2 linked regions of the Homo sapiens genome follow. The protein of the gene in region 2 purifies or fractionates together with the protein of the main gene of each other region. This does not show direct contact. Each region holds a gene or a part of one and is shown on either strand. Other genes may lie near its edges.

What was found. The genes of interacting proteins can lie anywhere in the genome.
Region 1: the proteins of ADCK2 (region 2) and PDK2 purify together in Homo sapiens (affinity purification with mass spectrometry; one large-scale study listed by BioGRID and IntAct). This does not show direct contact.

The regions. Positions count from the first base shown.
Region 1 is NC_000017.11:50,101,851-50,105,350, forward strand, and holds part of PDK2 (pyruvate dehydrogenase kinase, isozyme 2 isoform 1 precursor), read left to right. Parts: intron 1-2; exon of another isoform or gene 3-546; intron 547-3,500. UniProt on the Homo sapiens protein: Kinase that plays a key role in the regulation of glucose and fatty acid metabolism and homeostasis via phosphorylation of the pyruvate dehydrogenase subunits PDHA1 and PDHA2.
Region 2 is NC_000007.14:140,679,445-140,682,944, reverse strand, and holds part of ADCK2 (uncharacterized aarF domain-containing protein kinase 2), read right to left. Parts: intron 1,904-3,500; coding exon 1,808-1,903; intron 1-1,807. UniProt on the Homo sapiens protein: The function of this protein is not yet clear. It is not known if it has protein kinase activity and what type of substrate it would phosphorylate (Ser, Thr or Tyr).

The sequences.
Region 1 (3,500 bases), on a different chromosome or scaffold from region 2:
ACCTTGGGCTGGGCTTGGGAGCTCCGGATCTCACCAAGGGACTCCTGGGGGCCTTGATTACTGCAGAGGTCAGCAGGCCCAGAGACCCCAGCCTCCCTGCAGGTCCTGGGGAGGGGTGGGGGCAATGCCTCTCCCGCCTGTTGGTGCCTGTCTGTCACTGCACCACTGCTTCAGGCCTCCCTTATATAAGCCCAGTTCTCTCTCTGGCCTGCAAGGGGTGGGCAGCCCAGAGGCCAGCGCCACTCGTCCCCAATCTCCCTTCTTAGGATCAAGAACCGGCCCAAGGTTGACATTTGGTGCACCAGGCCCCTGAGGGGCTTCAGGGCAAGGCCAGGGACCTCGGGGAAAATCCTCATCCTCTCCCCTCCATTCCAAGAGTAGCCTGGGCCCCTTGCCCTGGAGGAGCCCTGGCCCTGTGAGGGAGGCTGGCAGGCGCTGCCCGCTGTCACTCCATGCCGGTGCCCTTTGCTCCACTTCAGTGGCCACGTGACCAGGCCCCATTCCTGCCCTCTAGGGTTGTTGAGCAGCCACAAAAGGGGTGGTGCCAGCAGCTGGGGCACTCTCCCTAAGTGAGACTGGGACTTTGACCATGCCCACCCCCACCCACTGCCCAGCACAGTCAGGAAGTGGCTTAGCCTCCCAGCTCCCACCCGCTTCATCCCCACCTGCCTCCTGGGAAGGGGCCTCAGGCCCCACTCTGCAGTGGGTCTCCTCCCCCTCCTCTCCCCACCTGCCCCTAGCACTGCCTGTGTGCGGGCCCTCTCTCCCCTAAGAATCATATGAGCATGAAGGTCTATTTTGGGTGCGTTTAGGGAGCAAGGGATTCGGAGCCACATAGGCCTGGATGAGAGAATCTCAGCTCTGTGTGTTAACTTCCTCATCTGTAAAATGGGTCCAGCAGTAGCGCCCACCTCTGGGGTTCTTGTGGAGGTGAAAGTGGGGCAGGAGGGAAGCACAGGGTGGACCTGGCTATTGGTACCCAGTAAATGCCACCATCACCATCAGCAGCGGCATCACCGTCAGGGCCCGTGTTGGCCGTTGGCCACGTGGTGTAGACTTGGAGTCTGCAAGAGCTAGGTTTGAATCCCAACCTGCTGCTTACTATGTGGCCTGGGGCATATCACTAACCTCTCAGTGCTGGTCTCGTTGTCTGCAAAAACAGGGAAATACCTTGTGCTCATCAAGGCTGTTGGCAGATGAGAGACCCTGTGTGGGACTCGGCACAAGTGGGTGTTAGTGGTCGCTATGTTCTTCTCCAGGGAGACAGGTGAGGTCTTAGGAGTGCCAGCCTGATTGTCTGCTGGGGTGGCAGGGATGGTGATGGGGGCTGAGAGAAAGGCTGATCTTTTCTGCTGTTGGGGCCCCCAGCCCCATCAGCAGCCACAGCTCCTCCTATCGGGCTCTGTGCAGAGCTCTGGGTAGGGAGGGGTGGGCGGTGAGCTCTGGGCCTGAGACAGCCCCCTTCGTGTGGCAGTGGGGCAGGTCTCCAGGGCACAGGGGCTCCAACATGCTGTGATTCAGAGCCTACAAGCAGTGGGAGAGTATCAGATGCTGCCTGGGGGCTCAGAGGATGCATGCAGCTGTTGACAGTGTTTGAGCCACCAGCCATAATAAGAGCAAGCATTAGAGAGTGCTCACTATGTGCTAGGCACTGTGCTAATCATCACATGGAATTCTCACCACAAAGCAGTCATAAATAGATATAACAATCCCCATTTTCCTAATGAGCAAACTCAGGCCCAGAGAGGTTCCATGACTTACCCAGAGCCACACAGCTCCAAGTGCTTAAAGAGCCAGGTCTGGGTCCAGAGCTGGTTCTTTCACTCTCTTCTCTGTCAGGCAAGAGCGAGAAGAGCAGCAATACTAGGTTTAAGGGGAAGGGCATTCCTAGCAGAGGGCACTGTGTGAACAGAAGCGTGGAGGTGAGAGTCGAGCAGAATCAGCACTCTGGAGTGGCAAGAGCGCTGGAGACTCGGGGGCTTCATCATCCCACTTACTAGCTATGGGGCTGCTTACGCCTCCCTGGGGGAGGCTGTGCGTGGGGCTGATTCCTGCCTGTCTGCCTGTTACAGGTTACAGTGAAGGCCAGAGCACTGTGGACATGGGAATGAGTCCTCGTGTGGAGGGGCCTTTTCTAGAAATACTGTTGGGCCCCTGGGGCCCTTGGCACTGCAGGGCTCTAGGTAGCGCCCCCCCTTCCTCCTGGTTATAAGTGTTTCTGCCAGAGAGAGGCTCTTCCTGCCTTCCCCAAAGGAACAAGCCACAGACTGGACATGTTAGCAGGGAAACAGGTCATGGCTCCCCAGGGCACGGGGCACAGTGGCTCCAGCTTGGTACCATCTGCCACCACAGGTGGACCTGACTCCCTTGCAGAAGGAGGCCTGCTGCTGTCCCTGAGTTCAGGGCTTATTTTTTGGGGGGACAGAGTCTTGCTCTGTCACCCAGGCTGGAGTGCAATAGAGCGATCTCGGCTCACTGCAACCATTGCCTCCCAGGTTCAAGCGATTCTCCTACCTCAGCCTCCCGAGTAGCTGGGATTACAGGCGTGCACCACCATGCCCAGCTAATTTTTGCATGTTTAGTAGAGACAGGTTTTTGCCATGTTGGCCAGGCTGGTCTTGAACTCCTGACCTCAGGTGATTCGCCCACCTCAGCCTCCCAGAGTGCTGGGATTACAGGTGTGAGCCACCACACCTGGCTAAGTTCAGGGATTCTTGATGCTCCTTTTAGAGCATCAAGCTCTTCTCTTAGCCCAGGGAAAACTGGCCTCCCCATCAGGCCTGTAGATGGGAGGAGGTGGCAGGGCATCACCCACTGCTACCTGGCCTTTTGCAGTAGAGTGAGCTTCTCTGGACTCTCCATGGGCCCCAGCCCCACCTGGGGACAGAGCCAGGCACGCCCACCCCACCTTTGGGTCCTTCCCACCTGCCATTTTAGAATCCACTTGCCGAGGCAGGTGCCTGGCCCAGATCACCCCAGCTCAGGGGTCACTCTGGGAGGCCCCGTGCTGTCTCCTCTGCCGGGGGTCACTCCAGGAGGCCCTGTGCTGGCCCTTCTGCCATTGTGCCCACTGGATGCAACAACACCCCGGCGGGGAGAAACATTAGGAGCTGTTTCCACACTGGGGCTCAGAGAAGTTGATGCACCTCCCTGCCTTCCCCCACTGCAGGCGCTAGGTCCAGTCTCCCTGCCCCATCTCAGCCTCAGTCTCCTGATCTGTGAGTCCTCTTAGATGGGATCATCTCCAAGCCCCTTCTGAGAGGACTATTCTAGGATTCCAAAGCAAAGGTGCTAAACGGGGGACCAGCAAATTTGAAGTTTTCTTGCATAACTGACTGGGTTGTCAGGGAGACTCACATACAAATGAAATGGATGGAGAAAAATAGTGAGGCGGCTTGTCGGCAGCTCTGTGTGGGGCCCGCGTAGGAGCAGGACAAGAGCAAGGCCCAGTTGAATGAAGTGGGTGAGGAGGGGCTAGCCACCTGAAGCTGAGGCTGTGT
Region 2 (3,500 bases):
ACTACAACCTCCATCTCCTGGGCTCAGGTGATCCCACCTCAGCCTCCCAGGTAGCTGGGACTAAAGGCATGCTGCCACCAAACGTGGCCAATTTTTGTATTTTTTTTTTTTTTTTTTTGTAGTGACAGGGTTTTGGCATCTTGCTCAGGCTGGTCTCAAACCCCTGGGCTCAAGCAATCTCCCCGCCTCAGCCTCCTGAAGTGCTGGGATTATAGGTGTGAGCCACTGCACCCAGCCAAAACTCTCCTATGTTTTAATCTGGGCACTGGGATGCTTTTTAAAAATTCACTAAGCATCATTTAAGATCTGAGCACTTTATATTTAAATATTATTGGAATTCAATTTTTTAAAGTTAAGGGCAAAAATCTTCAAAATGAACTTATCTGCCCTTGGATTAAAGTCCAAACTCTTTCACAGATTTACTAGACCCTTTGTGGTCAGGCCCCTCTCACCTCCTCAGCCTCCTCTCACCTCCTCAGCCTCAGCAATCACTGCCCCCTCCTTCAAACTCTCTTCCAAGCCATACTAAGTGCTTTCGTCTCTCCAAGAGCACCATGCAGTAGCTCACCCCAGGCCTCAGCAAAGGCTATTCTCTCTAGACAACTCCCTGCCACCTGTCCTTATGTAGTGACACCTAGACCTTCACACTGCAGCTGAGATGGAGCCACTTCCTGAGTGAATCCCTGGGTTAGCACAGTCTCCTCCGAAATGACCTTTTGGTACCCCGTACCTATCCCTATAAATCATTTACTTAGTCGTCACCTATCTTCCCAAGGAATAGTATGTCACGAGCATTGTAATTGTGTCTGTTTTGCTCACTGCTGTAACCCCAGCCCTTAATTCAGTGCCTGGCACCTAGCAGGTGCTCAATAAACATTTGCTGAACAAATGAGCAAAGCAGCATTTAAAATAAGATATTGTCTCAGCTGTTTGCTAAACTACAGGCAATGCTGGCAGAACTGGGTCATGGTCACCCTTCTTCTCACAGCACACAGAGCATGAGCCACTGACAAAGCACTTAAGAGGCCGGGCATGGTGGTTCATGCCTGTAATCCCAACACTTTGGGAGGCCAAGGTGGGAGGATCGCTTGATCCCAGGAGTTCAAGACTGCCCTGGACAACATAGTAAGTCCCTACAAAACAATTTTTTAAATTAGCCAGGCTTGGTGGCTCATGTTTGTAGTCCCAGCTACTCAGGAGGCTGAGGAGTGAGGAGGCAGGATCACTTGAGCCCAAGAGGTTGAGGCTGTAGTTCATGGAGATTTTGCCACTGCACTCCAACCTCGGCAACAGAGTGAGACCCTATCTTAAAAAAGGAAAAAAAAGGCCGGGTGTGGTGGTTCACACCTGTAATCCCAGCACTTTGGGAGGCCAAGGCGGGTGGATCATGAGGTCAGGAGATCGACACCATCCTGGCTAACATGATGAAACCCCATCTCTACTTAAAAAAATACAAAAAATTAGCCAGGCGTGGTGGCGGGCGCCTGTAGTCCCAGCTACTTGGGAGGCTGAGGCAGGAGAATGGCGTGAACCCAGGAGGCAGAGCTTGCAGTGAGCCGAGATCACGCCACCGCACTCCAGCCTGGGCGACAGAGCAAGACTCCATCTCAAAAAAAAAAAAATAAAAGAGCTTCACAGACACCATGGCCATTTATGGTAGCCTCCACTCTTTCTAGACCAGACTTTCTCAACCTGGCGGCTTGCTGCTTCGCTCTCCTTCCCACCCAGATAGCCAGAGTCCCAGCCCACTCCCCATCTGCAAGCTGACCACATGCTGGGCCTGAGCCCGCTCCAGCCATGAGCTCACCATCTTCAGGAGCATGTTGATCCCCAGCCGTGCAATCTTCCTTTTCAAGTCCACGGGAATTCCTGCCTGCTGGTAACTGGACACAGGCACACTCTCCTTCAGAAAGACCAGGGAGAGAACAGCTTAATCCCAGCCAGCCTGTGATGCTGGCTCCTCCTCCCACGTGGCACCACAGCGCTGTCTTCTCACTTATTGGGAAGTAACCCAAAGAGTATTTCCTTTCCTAGAACCCATCTGTCATTCAGCCATGTGCAGTGGCTCACACCTGTAATCCTAGCACCTTGGGAGGATTGCTTGAGCCCAGGGGTTCAAGACCAGCCTGGACAACATGAGGGAGAACCACCTCAACTCGGAAAGTCAAGGCTTCAGTGAGCTGAGATTGCGCCACTGCACTCTAGCCTGAGTGACAGAGACTCTGTCTCAAACAAAACAAAACAAAAATCTGTCATCCACACATTGATTTGAACTTATTTACATTCCCTTCTATAACAGCTATCAGAAGGATGACAAGTCACATAGGTTTATTGAAAAGGAAACCTATCAACTCTGCTACTGAAGATAAGAGATGTGATGTCCTGAAAAGATAGGGGTGGGCACCAGAGAGCTGGTTTCTGGGCAAGAATCAGCCAATAGGGGTCTGGGCAACGTAAGGAGACCCCCATCTCTACAAAAAAAAAAAAAAATTACCCAGGTGTGGTGGCTAACACGTATAATCCTAGCACTTTTGGAAACCAAAGCAGGAGGATCACTTGAACTTGGGAGTTTGAGACCAGCCTGGGCAACAGGGAGAAACCCAGGCTCTACAGAAAAATACAAAAATTAGTCGGACATGGGGATGGTGGCTCGTGCCTATGGTCCCAGCTACTTGGGAGGCTGAGGTGGAATGATCACTTGAGCCCAGGAGGTGGAGGCTGCAGTGAGCCGAGATCATGCCACTGTACCACAGCCTGGGCAACAGAGCAAGACCTTGTCTCAAAAAAAAAAAAATTGTCAAAACAACCCATGGAGATAGATCTTGTTATCCCTAATTAACAAATAAAAGAACCAAAGCCCAGAGAGGTTAAGCAACTTGCTCAAGTTCACACAGCTAGAAACACTGTGTGGTTCATGTCACATTCATGAGATTCCCTGAATCTCATATCACCATCTGTAAAGAGGAGGCTGGGCTGGGTGCAGTGGCTCATGCCTGTAATCCCAGCACTTTGGGAGGCCAAGGCAGGCAGATCACTTGAGGTCAGGAGTTCCAGACCAGCCTGGCCAACACGGCAAAACTCCATCTCTACTAAAAAATACAAAAATTAGCCAGGTGTGGTGGCACACACCTGTAATCGCAGCTACTTGGGAGGCTGAGGCACGAGAATCACTTGAACCTGGAAGGCGGAGGTGGCAGTGAGCTGAGATCATGCCACTGCACTCCAGCCTGGGCAACAGAGTGAGACTCTATCTCAAAAAAAAAAAAAAAAAAAAAAAAAAAAGAGAGAGAAGGCTGAACTAGAGTAGAGGATAGCTAGGGCAAGTGAGATGACACAAGGTTGTTCAGCACTTTCTCTGTGCCCAACTCCTTGTTTTGCATTCAGTGTGTCATTTACTCCTGAGACAATCCTCTAAGGCAGGTCACCAACTAATAAAATGGCAGAGCAGATTTTCAAATCTAGGGGATCGGGCCACACCCAGTGTTCTCAGCTACCTCACT